4 separate regions of the Homo sapiens genome follow, and all the other regions are linked to region 1. The links come from fine-mapping of genetic effects on gene expression. A gene starts in region 1. Each other region holds a variant in brackets. All regions are shown on one strand. Distances are between the middles of the regions.

The links. PIP is the estimated chance that this variant, and not a neighbour inherited with it, causes the effect. A credible set is the group of variants that fine-mapping cannot tell apart.
Region 2: its variant is the best candidate, but not a certain one, in a credible set for the expression of DNMT3A in whole blood (TOPMed, PIP 0.55).
Region 3: its variant is the best candidate, but not a certain one, in a credible set for the expression of DNMT3A in whole blood (INTERVAL, PIP 0.54).
Region 4: its variant is the best candidate, but not a certain one, in a credible set for the expression of DNMT3A in whole blood (INTERVAL, PIP 0.50).

Annotation. Positions count from the first base shown.
Region 1 is chr2:25,339,130-25,344,501 of GRCh38, reverse strand. It overlaps DNMT3A (DNA methyltransferase 3 alpha), which reads left to right and starts at 2,577. Exons shown (of 23, transcript NM_022552.5): 1 at 2,577-2,676. RefSeq lists an enhancer at 1,665-1,784 and silencers at 1,905-2,384, 2,445-2,654, 2,945-3,114, 3,215-3,454, 3,735-3,854.
Region 2 is chr2:25,359,279-25,364,650 of GRCh38, reverse strand. No RefSeq gene overlaps it. Among named protein-coding and RNA genes, the nearest start is that of DNMT3A, 20 kb to the right of the region's middle. RefSeq lists enhancers at 1,909-1,958, 2,009-2,108, 2,379-2,458. The variant G/A (reference allele first, on the strand shown) is at 2,436.
Region 3 is chr2:25,380,789-25,386,160 of GRCh38, reverse strand. DTNB (dystrobrevin beta) reads left to right here. Exons shown (of 21, transcript NM_021907.5): 19 at 2,272-2,325. Among named protein-coding and RNA genes, the nearest start is that of DTNB-AS1, 38 kb to the left of the region's middle. The variant AG/G (reference allele first, on the strand shown) is at 2,947.
Region 4 is chr2:25,314,530-25,319,901 of GRCh38, reverse strand. The region is part of intron 1 of DNMT3A (DNA methyltransferase 3 alpha); the gene reads left to right. Among named protein-coding and RNA genes, the nearest start is that of MIR1301, 12 kb to the left of the region's middle. RefSeq lists an enhancer at 5,351-5,372. The variant A/G (reference allele first, on the strand shown) is at 2,786.

The DNA of each region.
Region 1 (5,372 bases):
CGCCTCGGCCTCCCAAAGTGCTGGGGTTACAGGCGTGAGCCACTGCACCCACTGAATTTCAGCTTCTTAAGAGCAACTATGTTTCAAAAGTGTGGTGTGGGCTGGGCACGATGGCTCATGCCTGTCATCCCAACACCTTGGGAGCCTGAGATAGGAGCATCACCTGAGCCCAGGAGTTCAAGACCAGCCTGATCAACATAGAGAGGCCCCTATCTCTACAAATAATAATAATAAATTAGCCAGGCATGGTGGTGTGCATCTATAGTCCCAGATACTCAGAAGGCTGAGGCAGGAGGATTGGTTGAGCCCAGAATGTCGAGGCTACAGTGAGCCATGATCACTCCACTGCACTCCAGTCTGGGCAACAGAGCGAGACTGTGTCTCAATAAAAGAAAAAAAAAAAAGATGTGATGTGGGGTGATTTCAGAGCCGGATGAACCTGGCTTTGAATCCTGACTCTGCCACTTCCCAACTGTATGGCTTTGACTAAGACTGAGCCTCAGTTTCTTCATCTGTAGCGTGAGGAGAGTACAAGCCATATCACAGGGCTAGTGAAGACTAGAGAAAATACCATGTCTGGTGCCTGGCACATAGTAGACACTCAGTAAACAGTCGCTGCTGTTTGGGGCCGTGTTATATGTAAGCCCTTGATGAAGGCAGAGGTATCTCAGTCATCCTTCTATAAACGGTCTTCTCCTTTGCCAAGCTGGGTGCGCCATTTAGAGTGTTCACGGATGCCCCTCCTGATGTAGAAAGCGAACAGCCCAGGAGGGTCACATGTTAATTCCACCAAGGTTTACTGAGAATCTCCTAGCACCAAGTGCTGGGCTACAGGGATGACAGACGCGGCCCCTGTCCTCACAGAGCACTGGGAGTCTCTGGGCCGGTGGGGACCATGGACAGCAGGGCCTATCATCAGTAGGGCGGGGTGGCCACTTGAGTGAGGGTGACACTGAAAACGGCCAGAACTATGGCCTAGAAGCTGGTCTCAGATATCGAGGCTCAGGGTGGGGGTTGGGGAGACGGAGGGACCTGGAAGCATTGGAGAACCTCCCGAAGGAAAACCTTCCCGTCTGTATGAAAGGTCAGCTCCCGGTCCCAGAGAACTTGGCAACTCGGTTCTGTGACGCTAAAAGGGTGGCGTTGGGGGGGCGGGTGCTGGGCTGCATGGGGAGAAGGGAAAAGTAGGATCCGCTTCACTGTGAAGTGAGTCCCACCACCAACTCCAGCAATCCCTGCCCACAAGTAGGATGGCGGGTCCCTGGGAAGGGAGCACGCCATGTCCTGTGCCAGTCAGGGAGCTCAGGGCACTGTGATATAGCTGAAGTGCTGAGTAGAATTCGGGGTGCAGAGCTGCGGGTGGCTGGTGGGGTGCTGGGGCGCGCAAGGAGGCTGGAGGCGGGGGTGGGGGGGTGCCCAGCCCCAAGTCCTACAGCGGCTGCTGGAGGAGTGAGATGAGCACATAGTGAGTGGCTGTGCTGGTGGAATTAGACAGAGGTGCCCCAAGTCAGGAACCTAGAGCCCTGAGCGCTCCATGGGGAAGGAGAACAGCCCCCACGGTGAAGGGGTGAGGGCGGTGTGTAGGCACACACAGAATCTTCCAGCTGGAAGAGACCTTCAATGTCATTTCATTCAACCTCCCACCTCATGAAATCTTTCAGTCTTCCAGTGCCCAACTGAGGACACCCAACTCTACTTGGACACCTCAAGGTACGGGGAACTCACTCCCTTCAAGGCAGCTCATCTCAGAGAGGCTTTGGAGCCTGCGGGACGGCCAGGAGGAGCCTGGCGCTCCGACCTTGGCCCTGTAGAGCAGAGTGGCCTCTACTCCGCGGCGGCACCTGGCTGGGGGTTGCGGCGCGGTTGGGCCAGCGCTGCTGTCCCCAGCCCCAGTGCTGAGGCAGGCAGAGCGCAGTGGGCTCTGGCGGAGGTCGGGAGAACTGCAGGGCGAAGGCCGCCGGGGGCTCCGCGGGCTGCGGGGGGAGGCACTTGACACCGGCCCGGGGAGAGGAGGGGCCGCTGTCCCTGCGGCCAGTGCTGGATGCGGGGACCCAGCGCAGAAGCAGCGCCAGGTAGCGGGGCGCCCAGCGTGGGGAGGGCTGCGGCGAGGCCCGGAGCTCGGCTACGACTCGAGGGGCTCTGAGTGGCCGGGAGCGCGGCCGAGGCGGGGCGCCCGGGGCCCGGCCCCCGGTCTGGGCGGTGCGGGGTCCAGACCTCCGCCAAGCGGCGTGCGGGGACCCCGGCGGGGCCGCAGAGGCCGGGAAGTCGCGCCGAGGGCGCTAGGACCGGCCGCGCGCCCAGGCCGCTCCCGCCGCGGCGCCCCGGGGCCCCCCAGTCGGCGCTGCCTCCCGGGCCGGCTCCGCAGCGCCGGGGCCGGGGCCAGCGCGGCCGCGGGGGGCGAGCGGCGGGCGGAGGCCTGGGCCCGCGGGCGGCCGGAGGGAGGGAAGGAGGAAGGCGGAGAGAAGGGGTGGGAGGGGGGGACCCGGCGGAGGAGGCGGAGAGAGGGAGCGCGACAGCGAGCGGAGGGAGGGAGCGAGCGAGCGAGGCAGGCAGGCGGGCCGGGAGGGAGGGAGGGCGCGCGGGCGGCGGCGGCGGCGAGAGCAGAGGACGAGCCGGGACGCGGCGCCGCGGCACCAGGGCGCGCAGCCGGGCCGGCCCGACCCCACCGGCCATACGGTAATGAGCGCCGCTGCTGGCGGCCCGGAAGGCCGGCCCGGAGGCGGCGGGGAGCCGGGGAGCCGGGCGGGGGGCGCCGCGGCTGGCAGTGCCCGGCTCGGGGCACGCTCCCGGACCCCTGCAACTCGGCGCCGGGCGCCCGTGGGGCCGGGACTGCAGGCGGGGACGGCGGGCCGGGCTGGCCGGGGCGGCGCGGGGGATTTGAGGGTTTGTTTATGTCCCCGCGGGCTCGGCAGGCGCCCCCTCCCGTCCCGCCCGCTCCCGGCGCGGACCCCCCTCCCCGCCCCCGCCCGGCTCCGGGCTCAAGTTCAAGTCTATACAATGCCGCGGGGGGCCCCTCCACCGCCGGCCTGCGCCGCGGTGCCCGGCTCGCCGCTGCCGCAGGGGCCCCGGCCGGGCCGCCCCCGCCTTCCGGGCTCTGCCCCAGCCCCGCGGCCCCGCCTGGAGCCCGCGGCCAGGGCGCCGGAGGGCGCGGACCCCGACCCAGAAGGATCGGCCCCCGCGGCGGCCCGGGGGAGCGGGGGAGGGGGCGGGGGCCGGGCCCCGCGCAGGCTCCGCGGCGGCGGCAGAAAATGGCAGCCTGGCACGACCCGGCCCCCCGCCCCTCCCCCCGGCGCCCGGCCCTCCTCGGCCCCGCGGGGCGGGGGACCCGGGAGGCCCCCGGGGGCGGGCCGAGGGGTGATGGCGGGGCCGGGCCGGGGAGCGCCGCGCCGCGATCCTCCTCCGGCCACCTGTGGCTGGGGGTGCGGGGCGCCGGCGGGGCCGGGAGGGGCGGCGGGGCCGGGGAGAGCGCCCGCCTTGGGGGCACACCTTCCCCCGGAGTGCCGGCGGCACGGAGAGGGGTGGTCGTGCCCGGCTCCTCCCTGTCCCCACCGCGGGCCGTGGGTGCCCGGGCGGCCGCGGTGGCGGCGCCGCAATGTGGGGGCGGGGCGGGGGCGGGCGAGGATCCCGGGCCCGGGCCCGGGCCGCGGGGGCCGGAAAACGCGGGGGTGGAAGTAGCGGGGCCGGGACCGGGAGCGGCGCAGGGGGGGTACGCCCGGGGTCGCCCCTCCAGCACCCCCGCGCACACTCCCACGCACGCGGACACACTCACGCACACGCACCCCGCCGGGCCGGTGCAGACGTGTCCTTGAAAGCTTCGCATCTGCACAGTGAAGGACGAGGCCTCGCCGCGGCTGCGGAGCGGGGTCTTCGGCCCCACGTCCCCGCACCCCGGGAGACCTCGAGCTTCGGAGCCGCAGGCGGCGGCTGTCCGTGTCCCGCCCTCACCCCAGTTCCCCTCCCCCAGGCCGCCCTGCCTTCCCTCCCCTTCGGCGCGGACCGGGCTGGCGCGGGTCCAGGGCCCGCCCCTGGCCTCCCCCAGCCCCTCATCGCTGGGGCCCGCGGCCCTGGGGCTGCCAAACTGCTTTTCGCTTTCCTGAAGCCTCCCTTCTTGGGGGCACCCTCTCCCACCCCAGCGCCCCTCTGCCATTTCTCCCCCTCTCCTCATCCCCTCCGTCCTGGCACCCTCTCTCCGCTGCACGGCCAGTTGAGGAGGTGTTGGCGCCCTGGGCGGGGAGCAGTGCCCTCTGGTTCCCAGGGGCTGCCTCCCCCGGCTCCTGAGGGGAGCCCCCTGCGGCTGCACCTTGACCCAACATGGCGTCTGGCACCCAGCAGGGCAGCTCTGGCCTGCGGCAGGCGGGAGGGTGGGCAGGGCCGAGCCCCAGGGCCGCGCAGCTACCCCCCCTCCAAACCAGCGGGGACAGAAGCCTTGGGGAGAAGCGCTGTCCGCCCTGTGACCCAACTTGCCCCTCACTGCCGTGCCCAGAGACTGCCATCAGCATCCCTGAGGGCCTGCTCAGTCTTCATGTTTCACCCTAGGCTGCCAGCGGCTGAACCCGCCTCCTGGGCGGGCGGCTACGAAGGGATCCTGGGATCAGGTGCTGCTCCAGTGTCGCCTCCTCCCTCGCGGGCAGATGTGACAGCTGCAGCCAGGGGAGCTATTCGCCTTGCTATTGCCTGGGTGTTAGGACTGGCCTGTGGGATTTGGGGGGCCAGGCATCCCGGGGACCCTCTTTGGTTGGCTAGCAGGGGCCATCTCCAGGTAGTTTTCTGAGCTGCCTGCCTTTGGAGAGTTGGGTTGTAGGGAGTTCCTGCTGGGTTTCTGGGGCAAAATGGTCCCCCTCTGCCTCCAGGTTCTACCGAGGCCCTGCTTGGGCTGTGACAGGTGGCTCTGTCAAGGTGGGAGTCTGTGTGTGCACATGTGCTGGCTCCAGGCGAGGGACCAGGCTGGCCTGTGCAGCAGCTCTGGCACCTGCCTGCCTCCCTGGTGGGTCCCCCTCCTCTGTGCAGCTCCTCCCCAGATAAGCAGCTGCGGATTCAGGCCGACCAAACTTCCCTCGTTACCCCACCCAGGCACCAGTGCCTTCCATAGGAGACTGACCCTAAGAAAGGTGAATTCCTTCTAGACTCAAGGAGTGGACTGGTCCACAGGGCTGCCCTCTGAGTCCTTCCTGGAGAAGCCTAGGAAAGGACGCCAGCAGCCATCTGTCAGGGTGTCTGCGGACAGGATTCCTCTGTGGGGTGGGGGTTGGACTAGAGCCGGAAGGTCCATTCCAGCTTTGACATTCTATGGCTCTGATTCTAGTGGTGGAATTTCAGGCCTAGCAATGGGGACAGGGTGGTCTGTTTTTCGGCACATGGCAGTAATAGGGGAA
Region 2 (5,372 bases), 20 kb before region 1:
CCCTAAGTCATCCAGTCCTGCTGGGGTGCCTCCAGCTGCCCCGGGCTTCCTCCATGATCTCCCTAGACCTGGTCTAAATCTGTCACCTCTTGCCTCAATTTGCCCTTTTGAATCTTCTCCCTTTCCTTTTTCTGCGAGTCTGCACCCTGCTGGCCCCTTGCTAAGTCTCCTCCTTCTGTCCCTGTCTTTGCTCCCAAGGGTCCTCACCAGCGAGGGTTCTGCCTTCTTCTCTGGAGTTGTCTCATCCTCCCTGTTTCTTGGAGGCCTGTCTGGGGCCCTGCTTCTCAGGGAGGTACCTGAGGGTTCCTGGGATCCCTGGGGACCATGCCTTCCTGGACAGCTATAGGGTTCAATGGAAAAGCATGGGTTCTGGAGGGCAGGCACACCTTCATTTGAATCCTGACGCTGCTCCTTTCTAGAGTGACCTCAGGTCACTGCCTTATTCTCTGCATCTATAAAATGAAGATAATTCCAACCTATTTAGTTGTTCTAAGGATTATATTAAAATGTGTAAGAGACCTGGAGCAGGGCTGAGCACATAGCAAATGAGTAATAATGGTTGCTTTCCTTTCTTCCTCTGACACTAGTGTCTGCACCATCCACTGGGCACTGTGGGTCAAGCCACACTGAGCCGCACTGGCCAGACCCTACCTGGACTCATAGGCGAGAGGCTACAGTGATGGGGACAAGGGAACCTGGTACTGCCAGGGCCCAAGCCCCACGCCCGGTGCCAGGTGGCTGAGGATCTCCCCAGGCCTGGCACGGGTGCTCAGGCTTGGGGCGCTGATTTGTCTCCCCTGCCCAGACATGTAAAGGGCCACTTAAGGAGGTCGAGGGGTGGAGTCCAGGGCCCTGAGCCAAATCTCTGCCCAGGCTGTAGCCCTCAAGTCATGGGAAAATCTGCTTCTGGGGTGGAGGCTGGTCTTGGAATGGCAGGTAAGGAGCAGGACAGGATGGGGAGGACCACCTCGCAGACCTCACTCTCACCACCAGGTATACACACACTTGTGACTTGCTTGCCCCCTCAGTGGGTGAGCAGTTTCTTCAAGCCCTTGAAACGCCAAGGTCTTGTCACAGTTTTCTCCCGGGGCAAAGGGGCTACTTTCCCCTACACTAAAGAGAGCCCTCTCCGAACAATTTATTCTTTGCCAGAGATACTGGGCTCTGTGCAGGCTCCTAGAGGGAGCTTTCTCTACCGATCAAGAAGCATCTGCTTCCCTTATTCACTTAGCAAAAATTTCTTCTTTTTTTTTTTTTTTTTTTTTTTTTTTTTTTTTTTTTTTTTGCGGCGGAGTCTCACTCTGTCTCCCAGGCTGGAGTACAGTAGTATGATCGGCTCACCACAACCTCTGCCTCCCAGATTCAAGCCATTCTCCTGCCTCAGCCTCCCGAGTAGCTGGGATTACAGGCGCCTGCCACCATGCCCGGCTAATTTTTATATTTTGAGTAGAGACGGGGTTTCAGCATGTTGGCCAGGCTGGTCTTGAACTCCTGACCTCGTGATCCACCCGCCTCAGCCTCCCAAAGTGCTAAAATTACAGTCGTGAGCCACCGCGCCTGGCCCCAGAGATGGCTTTCTGTCCTGAGCAAGAAGGAAATATTCTGGAAGTTATACTTTCCAATGCTTTCCTCCCCACCAACCGGACAAAAGGCCAGGGGCCCACTCCAGCTGCCCTAGGGAATCCCCCAACATCTCACCTCTCCTTAGCTCCTCTGGGCTTCTGCAGTGACATCAGTGTGACTTCAGCACTGCGCTTTTTGAGCTAGCGGCTCTGCTCCGCTGCCCTCGGGCCCCACTTCCTCTAAATTCCCCGTTCCTCTCCCCGTGGCTCCACTTCTTCTTCGGGGCCGTGGCAGCGTTCTTCAATGTTCCCCGTGCACAGCCTGGATCCTGGCTGCCGCCTGTCCTACCTGTCCACGAGCTCCCCCTCTTTTTTTCCTCACTCTTGACTCAGAGAAACCCCACCCAATGCCTGCCAGATAGCGGAAGCTTAACAATCAGTTGTTAGATGTGCAAATAAAATACAGCCACAGATCGTTATATTGGTAACACAAACACAACATTCAGAGACCAAGAAAATGAAAAAGGGAGGTCTAGAAGGTCCTCACCTTCGTTCTTTTGTAAATAACGATGTCTTTATTATCAACAGGTCCCACCAAGGATTTTCCTGGTGTGTAAATTTATGAGGTGTCTTATAAAGGAATGACAAATGGAAAACACAGTTCATTATACACTTAACAAATTGCCTTTATTAAAAAAACAAAAACCAGGAAATCAGGATTGTCCTTGAGGAGTGAACACACCCAGGGGCCATGCCCCAAATGTTCTTTCTGTGTCAAGTGAGCCAACCCCGTCCCCTCTGTCCCATTCCCACACACACGTTTCCTCTTGCGCAGCTCAGGCACCGGGACTGGGTCCCCTCCCTAGCCCTGCC[G/A]GGAAGGAGAAAAGAAAGCGAGACTGAGCCCAGCCAATCAACAGTCAGCATTTCTGAAGCTCCTCCCCAAATACAAATATGCGCTCCGCCCCCGCTAGCGCCACCTGGAGGGTGAAGAGCGAAATGCGGCGACTGCACTGGGTCCTCGGCCTGGCGGAGCCGCCCACTTCGCTGGTTTTTGCAGCCGATGGAGACCCGGACTCCGCTCCGAAACCTGCTGACCGCGGTGGGGTTATTCGGAGCGGAGCCGCCGAGGGGCTGTCGAGCGCTTTTGAATCTGTTTACTTGAAATGACTTTCCCCACAACTTTCCCTGATTTCTATTCCCACTTGACCAAAAGAATGAGTTTGATGTGGAAAAGTGGCCAGAAAAGTGGCAATAGTGGTGTTAGGTGCTCAATGGCATCTCTTTGGGCTCAGCCTCCATTAAGCAAAGTAGATGCCTGGGGTGGGGAGGTGGCACCCTTTTTCCGGATCCCCAGTCAGTGGGGCAGGGGCTTCGGACACTGTCCCCACAGCTGGACTAGTGGCCCAGAGATCCTAGAAGGGACCCAGCCTTCCCGCGCTGCACCCAGACCTCCGGGGTGTGACCGCCAAGCTGTCCTGGCTCCCCTGCTCAGTGGCCTGATGGGGGTCTCAGTCCCGCACTCCCTCGTGGGGTCGGGGCACTAAAACAATCATTTTTTCAGGCCATGCTCCTTGATCCTAATTTAAAAGGCGGCCTGGCCGGACGCGGTGGCTCATATCTGTAGCTCCAGCACAGAGTTGGAGGCCAAGGCAGGCGGATCACCTGAGATAAGGAGTTTGAGGCCAGCCTGGCCAACATGGTGAGACCCCCGTCTCTACTAAAAATACAAAAATCACCCGGGTGTGGTGGCACGTGCCCGTAGTCCCAGCTACTTGGCAGGCTGAGGCAAGAGAATCGCTTGAACCCGGGAGGCGGAGGTTGCAGTAAGCCAAGATCATGCCACTGCACTCCAGCCTAGGCGACAGAGTGGGACTCTGTCTCAAAAAAAAAAAAAAATTAGCTGGGTATGATGGTGCAGTCTGTAATCCCAGCTACTCGGGAGGCTGAGGCAGGAGAATCGCTTGAACCCGGGAGGCGGAGGTTACAGTAAGCTGAGATCACGCCACTGTACTCCAGCCTGGGTGACACAGCAAGACTCTGAGACTCCATCTCAAAAAAAAAAAAAAAAAGGAGGCCTGGGAAGGATCCCCTCTGAGACATGGAAGACTTGCTTGACTCAAGGTGGGTTTTTTCCTTGAGTCCCTCAGTAGCCCTCAGGACAGTCCCTCAGGTGCCACCTGCCCTCCCCTGCAGGAGAGGTTTGTTCTGGGAGGAGAAGCCCAGACAGGCACGGGTGGCGGGAGGGCAGGTGGGCATCTGCCCCCAACAGGCCTCTCTGCTTTGGGAAGCCCAGGTGCCCTCGGGACCCTTGAGAAAGGAAAGGTGGCGGGGAGAGAGGAGGGCAGGATGAGTTTTTTTTTATTGACCACCTACTATATGCCATATGCTATGTAGATTTCTGACCACGACAGCGGCCTCCTAACAAAGGCCCAAGAAAGCTGACTTTAAAATTACATTTACATGCCCTTGAATAGCATATATTAATTTTACACAAAGGAGAATATGCCTTTAGGCTGTTTTCCTTTTTCTTTCTTTTCTGTGGCCAAAAAAAAAAAAAAAAAAAAAAAAAGTGGGAGGGGGGTTGATGGGCTTAGGACAGAAAGGAAGAGGTATGCCACCAAAATCACCTGAGAAGAGAAGGGGGGGCTGGGGGTGGGGGTGGCCTGAGAGAAGGACAGACCCTGGCCTCTCCCAGTGGATAAGGAAGAATCTTGCTCTAGCAACTTCAAGATGGTTTGCCTGGTCAAGGAGGGGAAGGGACAGGGCGAGTCCATGGGCCCTGCTCAGGGCTGGCTGCTGGGAAAGGAAGGTCTGTGTCAGTCATGGAATCCAGGAAATCTGCCAAGTTTAAGGCTCAAGGGGGATGGGGGAGCCACCTTTTCTAGGGCCACTATGGGTGGTCTTGGGGCCCTCAGAGGACTTGCTTCTTGGGCACCTGAGTTAGACCTGGCAGAACCAGCAGACACCTTAGGACCTAAGATGGGCCCTCCCTGCCACTCTCTGGGCAAGAGCCCCAAGCCCATATCTCCAGGGTCTGTGTGGAGGGCACTGCTGGGCCCCTGAGAAGTGCAGAAGGTCAGGCTTTCCTGCCCTGGCTTAGCAAAACACCCGGCCTCCATCTCCCCCATTGTTCCCTTGTCCCCACGAACATGCTAGCCCAGTTCTGCTCAGGAAAATCAGCCCCCGCAGCCCAGGTTCTTGCACCTTCCTGTCCTGAACTTCTTTGTCCCTGTCTACTCCTCTCCCCACTGTTCACAGCCCCCAACCTCCCAGGGGCCCACATTCAGCTCCTGAAATTCATTAAGTGTGGCAAGGAAAGGTCTCCACTCAAGAGATTTCAAGATGTCTGGGGACAGGCAGGTTTTCCAAATGACCCTGGAGGCCGGGTGCTTGGGACGCAGTGAGAGGGAGGGGACAGCAAGGGGAGGGCTGGGTTAGATCTGCTCAGGGACAGAGCTGTGAGCCAGTACCCAGCCTGGCAGCAGGTGGGCTGGGTGACAAGCCCTCGGCCTCAGCCAGTCTCTAGCACAAGAGAGCCCCGGGCCCCCTGGGAAATTCTGTGTGGACAGAGGGTGAGGTGAGAGTCCTGGTCTGGCCCTGGCTCTGCCGCTGGCTTGCTCAGAGCCCCCTCGGGACCTCAGCAGCCTCATCCTTAAAATGGACAAAACAAGGGCTGGGGCCAGGTGCAGTTGCTCACACCTGTAATCCCAGCACTTTGGGAGGCCGAGGCCGGCAGATCTTGAGGTCAGGAGTTCCAGACCAGCCTTATCAACATGATGAAACCCCATCTCTACTAAAAATACAAAAGAT
Region 3 (5,372 bases), 42 kb before region 1:
GTCAGACGCTGCCTCTCTTGTTTGATGGTGCCACCCTCTCCATTCTAGCACTGTTTCTCAACCCCCATCAGAAGCACGGCCCCGCTCTGTACACATAAACAGAAGAGGCGACAGCCTTCAGGATGACCTCACAGGTGATTAGAAGGCGCTTTCCCTAATGCAGCTCCCCACAGATGTCAGAAATCCCACTTTTAGAGGAAATTTCTCAGGGAATTTCGGGCCATGGGAATTAACTACACTTGTACTTCATGGCCACTTATTAGAGTTTATGCAAAATAAGTGGCTTCTGCGTTCATCGTGCTAGGGTGAGAGGTCATTAAATACCATTAAGTGGAAAGCACATAGAGACCAAATAGCTTCACAAAAATGTAAAGCTTATAGGAATCCTCAGCAGTGTCTCATAGTAAGAAAGGATGGTTTCAACAAAATTATGTAGTGTAATTTGGAAGGTGCCTTAGAGAGCACATTGTCCAGTCCCTTACTTTAGAGATGTAGCCTGTGCTTATCAGAAAAGTGGTCTGCCTAAGGTCGTGCAGCTTGAAGGGGGAAAGCTGGTCCTAGAACCTGGGTCTTCAGAGCATCAAGCCAGAGATCTTACTCCCCTCCAGGACAAGATAGCAAACCCAGAGTCCCAGAGGCCCCTTTCCCTGATGCTGTCCTCTCAGTCACTGAAGCCTGTAGGTAGACGTGGACCAAAGCCACACATGGCACGGTATCCCTCTAACATGCAGACATAAACTCCCTTTACATGTGAGGGTGCCAATTTCTCAGTGAATGGAATAGCTTCACCCATCACCAACATGTTTTTACTGTCTCCTTGACAGTGACTTGACAGGTTTTTGTTCCAATGAGAGGACATACTCAGATTATCTTTACATATATTCTATACAGTGTATACATACTGTATATACATAGCTTGTAGTCCTCATCTTTATAAAGTTTTTTCACAGATAATCGAATCCTAGAATTGGAAAGGATCGAGGCCACAGGCACAGTGGCTCACACCTGTAATCCCAGCACTTTGGGAGGCTGAGGCAGGTGGATCACCTAAGGTCAGGAGTTTAAGACCAGCCTGACCAACATGATGAAACCCCGTCTCTACTAAAAATACAAAATTAGCCTGGCATGGTGGTGCATGTCTGTAATCCCAGCTACTCGGGAGGCTGAGGCAGGAGAATCGCTTGAACCTGGGATGCAGAGATTGCAGTGAGCCAAGATCGCGCCGCTGTAGTCCAGCCTGGGCAATGAGCAAAACTCCATCTCAAAAAAAAAAAAAGAAAAGAAAAGAAAAAAATTGTAAAGGATGTTAGAAGTCATTTAATCCAACTCGCCACCCAATAAAACAGTCCTCTGAATATTTCCAGCGAGCTCATTCATGATCAACTCTAATCACTGGAAACTTCTTCCTCAGTGGGGAGCCAAAATCTCACTTTCTGTAACTGATTTATCCCTGTCCTCTCAAGCTACCCAGGATAAGCTCAGTCCCTCCTCTGCAGGCTCGCCTTTCACGGGTTGGATGGCAAATGACAACCCTTCCTAGTTTTCTCCTCTGTAGACTGCTACACCCAATTCCTTCAACCTTTCCAAACGTGACATGGTTTTCTCTTACCAGCCTGCTTGACCATACCAGGATGTGGCCATTTTCCAAGGCTCCTATTCAAAGTACATGCCCAGGGCCCAGCACCCTGCTCTCCATCACAGGGGATCTTGTCCCTGCAGAGCACAAGGCATCTGTGACCCTCTTGAGTGTCCCCTGGAAAAGCACCTTAGACGGCATTAGCACTTCCCACATAGCCACTTTGCACTGTGCGGTCATTTTAAGTTTATCATCAGCTAAAACATACGGAATTTTTTTTTTTTAACAGAACCCCGTGTTAATCTAGGTATTCCCCCACCATATATTGTATGGTCACTTTCTTAAACCTGAATGCAAGACATTAGATGTCTCCCTGGTCATCACCACCTGAGGGCAGACAGGCATAGAACAGAGGCACGCAACCCCACACTGCACGCCCCCAGCCCTGGTCAGGAAAGTGAGCGATGTGACCGCACTGCTCCCTTTGGGCTGTGGTCTTACGGGCTCCTATTCAGCAGTGCTGGGGCGTGGGCCGCACAAGTGCAGACTGGTGAGCTGAAGCACCCTCAGAGGCCTGCAGCCAGGAGCTGTTAGCTAGAGTTTCCTCCCAAGCCTCAGCAGTTGCTTTGTTCACCCTCCTTCTGTACTTGTCCTGTGCCGAAGGGTCACTGGCCTCCTTGGACTTGTTTTCACAGCAGAGGAAGGTGCAGAGGAAGAAGAAGAGAAGATGCAGAATGGGAAAGACAGAGGTAAAGGCAGCTCAGCAGGACTGCTCGTTTAAATGGGGAGCCCGAGCTCATGGATCAGCCGCCCCCCACTTTGTTTCTGCATTCCTCCCTGCCACCACCTTTCCCAGAGCTTTCGGACCCGAGGTCCCTGTACCTACTTTTCCCATCTGACAGTCAGGTTTTACCTTCCAGGTGACAAGGTCAGTCGATCACCAAGAGCTTCCTCATTTCCTGATCCTGGGATAGGTAGTTGGGATACAGGAAGTAGATACAAGTAGAACACAAAAGATGACCCTTTGACTGGAGAAGTTTATGATCTAGTTAATAAAGCAAGACCAGGCCAGGTGCGGTGGCTCACGCCTGTAATCCCAGCACTTTGGGAGGCTGAGGCGGGTGGATCACAAGGTCAGGAGTTCAAGACCAGCAGGCTGGCCAACATAGTGAAACCTCATCTCTACTAAAAATACAAAAAATTAGCCAGGTGTGGTGGCAGGCGCCTGTAGTCCCAGCTACTTGGGGAGAATGAGGCAGGAGAATCACTTGAACCTGGGAGGCAGAGATTGCAGTGAGCCGAGATCACACCACTGCACTCCGTCCTGGGCAACAAGAGTGAAACTCCATCTCCAAAAAAAAAAAAAAAAA[AG/G]ACCAAAAATGCAAAATAAATAGATCAAATGAAGTGGCAGAAAAAGCTAATCATAAAACTTTCAGCATATAAGTATAATAAGGGTTTCTGAAAAGGAAGAGATTGTTGTGGACTAGAATAGCCAAATGGTTTTGTGGCTTCATGGAAGAATAAAACCAAGAAGGGAAGGTGTCAGCAAAGGACAGTAGTGCCTTCCTAGTTTCATTATATATCGAACCTGCTTAACACATGACATCTGGGAAGAGCTGCAGGGAATGATTTTCACGTATGATGATCTCATCTAATCCTTAACACTGTGAGACAGATTCGAATATCCCCATTTTACCCATGAGGAAATAGGCTCAGAGAGATGTTGTTCATGTAGCTGTTAAACGGCAGAGATTTAGGCCAGACGTGGTGGCTCACACCTGTAATCCCAGCACTTTGGAAGGCCGAGGCGGGCGGATCACTTGAGGCCAGGAATTCGAGAGCAGCCTGGCCAACATGGTGAAACCCTGTCTCTACTAAAAATACAAAAATAAGCCAGGTGTGGTGGTGCATGCCTGTAATCGCAGCTACTCGGGAGGCTGAAGCAGGAGAATCCCTTGAACTCAGGAGGCAGAGGTTGCAGTGAGCCAAGATCACGCAACTGCACTCCAGCCTGGGCAACAAAGAGAGACTCTGTCTCAAAAAAAAAAAAAAAAAAAAAAAAAAAGGCAGAGAACTGGGTCTTTCTGACTCCAAACTTCGTGCTCTTAATCTTCATCCTTCTATGTTATACTGAACAGAAAACAAAATTTTCTTTGGACATTTGAGGGTGAGCTGTTCTTTCTGTTGTGCATTAATGTGTTAGTTGCTGGATTCCTCCTAAACATCAGCTCCTCAAGGCAGAGATTTTAGTCTGTTTTGTTCATGTTGTGTTCCAGTGCCTGGTGCTTAGTAGGAGGTCAATAAATGAACAAATCAAAGGAAATAAATGGGGTGATGAGATAGAGAGTACCTTATCGGGGAGAGAAATGCAATGGCTGGTCACCCCAAGGAGGTGAAGGTAGGGAGAGCAGGAAGCATGAGGAGGAGCCAGCAGCAGCCCTCCCAGGGAGGAATTCTGAACAAGGCTCGGGGGAGTGAAAGAACCTGCCAGCTGATAAATGGCACAGCCTGAGTTCAACTCCAATGCCCATGGTTTAGTCTGAGCTGAACTGGTAGACTAAGGGAAGTGGAGTGGTCTTACTTAAGGAAGGGTAGAAGCCAAGTGGGAGATACAGGTAAGGAAGCTGTGACAAGAAAGGGAAACCTACAGGACAGTGGGTCTGGAGCATTCTTGGCCCATAGGGGCTGGAGTGGCTAAGACAGGGTCGTCTTTGGAGTCTCACGGGGCAAGGAATTTGTCAGCAAGGACCCTGAAATTGCTGAGGAAGAAACTGGGAGAAGAGGAAGAAGATTCTGCAGATTCTGAAATCGTCTAGTGAGTCTGAGCTAGGCCTGGGAGGAAGTGGACAGCAGCGCCAACGAGTTGATGAGAATGACATATGTGGCACGGACACCAAAAGGTCAGACTAGGCTGGGCATGGTGGCTTACACCTGTAATCCCAGCACTTTAGGAGGCTGAGGCAGGGGGATCACTTGATGCCAGGAGTTTGAGACCAGCATAGGCAACATAGCAAGACCCCATCTCTACAAAAAATAAATTAGCCGGATGTGGTAGTGCACACCTGTAGTCCCAGCTGCTTTGGAGGCAGAGGCAGGAGGACTGCTTGAGCCCAGGAGTTTAAGGCTGCAGTGAGCTATAGTCACGCCACTGCATTCCAGCCTGGATAACAGAGCAAAGCCCTATCTAAAAAATAAAAATAAAAGGTCACATTAGAGAGCAGTAGTGTTTCAGACATCCAGGAATGCTTCATAGAAATGTAGAAACAATTGACTTACCCACACAGACAAGAAAGAAGGCAGGAGGGCAAAAGGTGAAGAGATACACAGATAAATTTACACTGGTGTAAACACATGCTGCAAACACGCGCACACACACGCACACGCACATGCACATGCACATGCCAACCAAATCCTAGCATTCATGTGGAATGTTCCTGGCTGAAGACATAACAGCTGCATCTCTGGCCTCCCTTCACCTGCCCCTCCCTTCCCCAGTAGCTTTTTCCCATGGCCTCTCCTCAGTCCTTTTCACTCCACCAAAGCAAACCTAGGACTGCCCCAGCCACTGAGGCCTTGCCCTGGCCACGAACTCTAGCCCTTATCCTGGTTCGAGTCTGAGTGTGGGCCATGCCTCACATGGGAATCAGACTGGGTTTCCCTTGCCCAGCCCTCCAGGCCCCAGGGTGCTGTCTCTGCACCTGCACTCCCCTGTCCACATCAAACTGGGTTTCCCTTGCCCGGGCCTCCAGGTCCCAAGGTGCTGTCTTTGCACCTGCACTCCACTGTCCACATCAGA
Region 4 (5,372 bases), 25 kb after region 1:
GCTACTCGTGAGGCTGAGGCAAGAGAATTGCTTGAACCCACAAGGCAGAGGTTGTGGTGAGCCGAGAATGCGCCACTGCACTCCAGCCTGGGCTAGAGAGCAAGGGTCCATCTCAAAAAAAAAAAAAAGAAAGAAAGAAAAAATCTATTCAGTTCCTGGGTTTAGATAGCAGAGTATGGCCACGAGCGATACCTGTGTAGTTTTGTCAGGTAAAAAGACAGTTCGACAGCAGAGGGCATGGTGATGACGGCACTCGTGCCCCAGTCTCAGTGGGAAGGCTGGCCCTCTCTGGCTCATGCCAGGTGACTGGCATGCGGCCTCTTTTCCCCTTCATCCTGGAGCCTCCCTTCCCATCTCTCCTGTACTGGATCTTATGCGTATTAGAGGACATCTTCCTGTCCTTCCTGGGAAAGGAGCGTGAGGCCTCATATGTCTGAAGATGTCTTTACTAGGGCCCAGCACGGTGGCTTACGCCTGTAATCCCAGCACTTTGGGATGCTGAGGTGGGAGGATCACTTGAGCCCAGGAGTTCAAGATCAGCCTGGGCAACATAGTGAGACCCCATCTCTATTTAAGAAAAAAAAAAGACCCCGGGCGTGGTGGCTCATGCCTGTAATCCCAGCACTTTGGGAGGCTAAGGCGGGCGGATCACCAGGTCAGGAGCTCGAGACCATCCTGGCTAACATGGTGAAACCCCGTCTCTACTAGAAATACAAAAAATTAGCCGGGTGTGGTGGTGGGCACCTGTAGTACCAGCTACTTGGGAGGCTGAGGCAGGAGAATGGCATGAACCCGGGAGGTGGAGGTTGCAGTGAGCCGAGATCCCACCACTGTACTCCAGCCTGGGCGACAGAGCAAGACTCCGTCTCAAAAAAAAAAAAAAAGAAAGAAAGAAAAGAAAAGGGCCAGGCGTGGTGGCTCACACCTGTAATCCTAACACTTTGGGAGGCCGAGGCAGGCAGATCACGAGGTCAGGAGATTGAGACCATCCTGGCTAACACGGTGAAACCCTGTCTCTACTAAAAATAGAAAAAAAATTAGTCAGGCATGGTGGTGGGCGCCTGTAGTCCCGGCTACTTGGGAGGCTGAGGCTGGAGAATGGCATGAACCCCTGAGGCAGAGCTTGCAGTGAGCCGAGATTGCACCACTGCACTCTAGCCTGGGCGACAGAGCGAGACTCCATCTCAAAAAAAAAAAAAAAAAGAAAAGAAAAAAGAAAATGTCTTTATTTTACTCTCACACTTAAATGATAATTTGGCTGAAAATAATTCTAATTGGAAGATTGTTTAAGATTTGGTTTATTCTTTAAGAATTTTGGCTGGGCACGGTGGCTCACACCTGTAATTCCAGCACTTTGGGAGGCCAAGGTGGGTGGATCACTTGAGGTCAGGAGTTCAAGACCAGCCTGGCCAACATGGCGAAAGCTGTCTCTACTAAAAATACAAGAATTAGCCGGGAGTGGTGACGGGCGCCTGTGGTCCCAGCTACTCGGGAGGCTGAGAAATGAGAATCACTTGAACCCAGGAGGCGGAGGTTGCAGTGAGTGGAGATCATGCCACTTCACTCCAGCCTGGGCAACAGAGAAAGACTCCGTCTCAGAAAACAAAAACAAACAAAAAAACCCAACTGATCGGAAGCTCTGAGAATGATAGTGGACTTGTTGGTTTTCAAGTCTACATAGGCTGACCTGAATAAGTCATTTTGACCCCATTTTGGTACTGATGTTGGTATTGGCATCCTTAAACCTTTCCTCTTAGACTCATTCGATTCTCCAGAGAAGGAAATGGTTGTCTGGCTGCCAGTATTCTTAGAGCCCAATCGGGGAATAGCCTGAGAGACTGGACATCAGCATTTAAAATAACCTTCCCGGCCGGCGCGGTGGCTCATGCCTGTAATCCCAGCACTTTGGGAGGCTGACGTGGGCAGATCACCTGAGATTGGGAGTTCGAGACCAGCCTGACCAACATGGAGAAACCCCATCTCTACTAAAAGTACAAAATTAGCCAGGCTTGGTGGTACATGCCTGTAATCCCAGCTACTCGGGAGGCTGAGGCAGGAGAATCGCTTGAACCCGCGAGGCGGAGGTTGCGGTGAGCCGAGATCGCGGCATTGCACTCCAGCCTGGGCAACAGGAGTGAAACTCCATCTCAGAAAATAAATAAATAAATAACCTTCCTCTCCTTGGTTTGATATATCATCTTTGTCTTCAGCTGTGCCAAGTGACTCTGTGCAAAGACCCCCTATTTTATGCCCTCCAGTGACTACAGATAAACCTTCAAACTTGTAGAAGAGGGTCTAGGAATTCACTACTCTCACTCAGCCTCTCGTTTCTCACACAAGCATCCTCTTCAGCCCTAGTGCCAGAGTACCTGGTGCTGTCATATAAGCATCTGTTGAAGACTGTGTTATATATCAGCGTTCACACGCCTGTCTGAAATTTGGCTGTCACAAGTCTGCTTTCCAGATTCCACAATTTTGTTGGTGGTATTCCTTCTCTTGTTCAGCCTAATCTTGTGATTTTATGTCTTAAAAAATCTTTTGGCCAGGTGTGGTGGCTCATGCTTGGAATCCCAACACTTTGGGAGGCTGAGGTGGGAGGATCCTTTGAAGCCATGTGTTCAAGACCAGCCTGGGCAACATAGGGAGACCCTGTTTCTACAAAAAAAAAAAAAAAAAGCCAGGTGTGGTGGTACATGGCTGTAGTCCCACCTACTCAGGAGGATGAGGTGGGAGGATCACTTGCACTTGAGCCCAGGAGTTTGAGGCTGCATTGAGCTATGATACT[A/G]CCACTGCATCCAGCCTGGGTGACAGAGCAAGAACCTGCTCTAAACAAACAAACAAAAAATGTTTCTATTGCATTGAGTTTAGAAGGTAGTGAGCCTTGGTATGCATATTCAAAGCTTTCAGTTCTTTTTCCACAACAGTTTTATAGTTGACGCAGTGGAGATGGTGATCATATCAGCTGTGATACGAAGATGTTTTCATGGTGGGATTCCTTGAAATTTTTTAAGTGGCTGTTAACAAACATTATTCATGGTCACTGTGGACTCTAAAAGGAGGAAATAAAAGCTGCTTTTCATGGTGGTAGGGTTCTTGGCAAGGGTTTTTTGGTGGCAGTGGTGGTGGCTGTGCAGCCCTTGGCCCAGGTGGGAAGAACGCTTTGGTATCGGAAGCAGCCAGGGCTGTGCGGTGGAAGGACCGATGTGGTGGACACCCGCTGCTGTGTTGGGACTGTGGGCCCAGGAGAGCCCACTCCCCATGGCTGGGCTGCCTGAAGGAAGAATGAAGCGTCTACGGGTAGGTGGGCAATGCTATGTCAAGGTCTGGGACCTTGGCCACCAACTGGGGCCCCCTAGGGTTGTGTAGTACATGGCCCGCCCAGACACATACTGGAGGATTTTAGGTGATGGACACGATTTTGAGGGACTGCTACTGACAGGGCTGGTCCATTGAGCAACACGAAAGGGTTGACCCAGGTCAGCTGCATTTTCTGTGAGGACAGTTTCTGCAGCTCAGATGTCAGAGTCTTGGGTGGAGGAAGGGGAGGAGGAAGAGAATCTTCCTTTCCTTTCCTGTCTGGGGTGTCTGCCCTTGGGGCCAATGCCCTGTGAAGTTCTGCTTTTCCCTCCAGCTTCCTTCCTCTCCAGAGCTTCTCTGAACCTCGCCACACCCGTGGCGGCACAGATGCCCTCTGGGTGTCCCTAAGCCTAGGGCAGCATCAAGACAACCCTCCCGCCCCGCTTCCTTTGTGCCTGGGTCTCCCCCGACTCCATTTGGGGTGCCCTGTCCTTGTCAGCCCCTTGTGTGTCCACTGTGCCTGTGGGGCCGCAACAGCTTCCTTGGCCGGTCAGAGCTATTAATAGAAGGGGTCCTGCTCTCCCATTTCATTGGTGGGGAAACTGAGGGCCGGGGAAGCCTCCGTCAGGAGTAGATCCCACCCCTGCGGACTTTGGGCTCAACGTTCTTTCCAATCAGACTCTGCCCCTCTTAGCTTCTGACCCTTTCGAAGGTTTTTGTTTTAGTGTGGCTGGAGATGTCTGTGGTAACAAATGGGGAGTGAGGCTTGACAGGGAATCACTGGCTGCTAAGGGCTGGCAGCCGAGTGCTTCTGGGTTGGACCAGTTCTCTTTTGGGATCTTCAGAGTTGCTTCTGTGGTGTGTGTTGGGGGACGTGAACCCAACCCCTCAGAACTTTAGTGTCAGAGAGATCTGGGTTCATGCCTCTGATGGGTCCTGGCCTTGTTGATCTTACCGTCACCTGTAAACTGGGCACGGCACAGCAGCTGCCCAGATGCAGAGCACGAGCCAGGCCCTGAGTGGCATGTGGCCGATGGAGCTGCTCTCCGCTGCCGTCCACCCTCTCGGGACCCGGGCAGCAAACCTTCCTTAAGCCCAGCACTGCGCTGTGCCTAGGGGTATGGGGAATGGACGCAGTGCACCTGGGCTGCCTCAGGGCTCAGCTGTGGGGCAGGTCCGCTTCAAGCCTTTCTGGGTTGACCTGATGGAGCTCTTCCTGTCCTGGCCCTAAGAAGCTCCTCCTGCCAGCTCCTTCCTCCCACTACCCCCTGGGGCACAGCCAGGGCTGGGGCACCCACTCCCAGGCAAGAATGCACCCCTGGAGAAAGGGGCTAGGCCTGTAGGAGAGCCAAGCCTGTGCTTTCTCCCGGTCCTGGTTTTCCAGGGAGCCCTGACTGGAGGGGGATGGGAGGAGAAGCCCAGGAGGGAGGGGGAGCTGGGGAAGCAGAACCAGGAACTGGAAGGGGAAGGGTGTGGGTGGGCCCAGATCCAGCCTGCCTCCCGCTCTCCCTTGCCTGCCAATCCCCTCCTGGGCCCTGGCACACTCAAGGCAGGGGCTTGGCGGCCGCCTCCTCCGGGGGTGGGGAGCAGGGGAGCTCTTGTGTGTCTCTGAGTGAGGGGGCTGAGACAGCAACACCCCCACCCCAGCTGTGGCCTGAGCTGCAGGCTTTGTTATTTCTCTGGCTTGAGGCCTACACCTGGAGCAGAGGGAAGAAAAGCCCCTAAACTCAGCCGTGTGGGTTCAGAGGACCCCTCAAGCCCACCAACTCTGCAGGCAAATGAGGCTGGTTCATGGGGTGGGGGAGAGAGCAGCCTCACTCCTGCCTCAGTGTGGCCGTGGCCTGTGGCCTTGGCCGTGGCCGTGGCCTCTCCCTCCTAGGCCAGAGCCAACCAGGCCTGCAGCCTGAGCTCAGACCTCAGCTTTCTCTGGGCCCAGGCACCGGTCCTGAAGTGAGGTGACATTCATTTCACTACATCCTGTGACTGCACTCACTTCCTCCACGTGGCGGGAGGTGTGGGGGTGGGGGTGAGGACAGATTAGAAGGAAAACGTAGCTGGGCTAGGGGCCTCTGGGG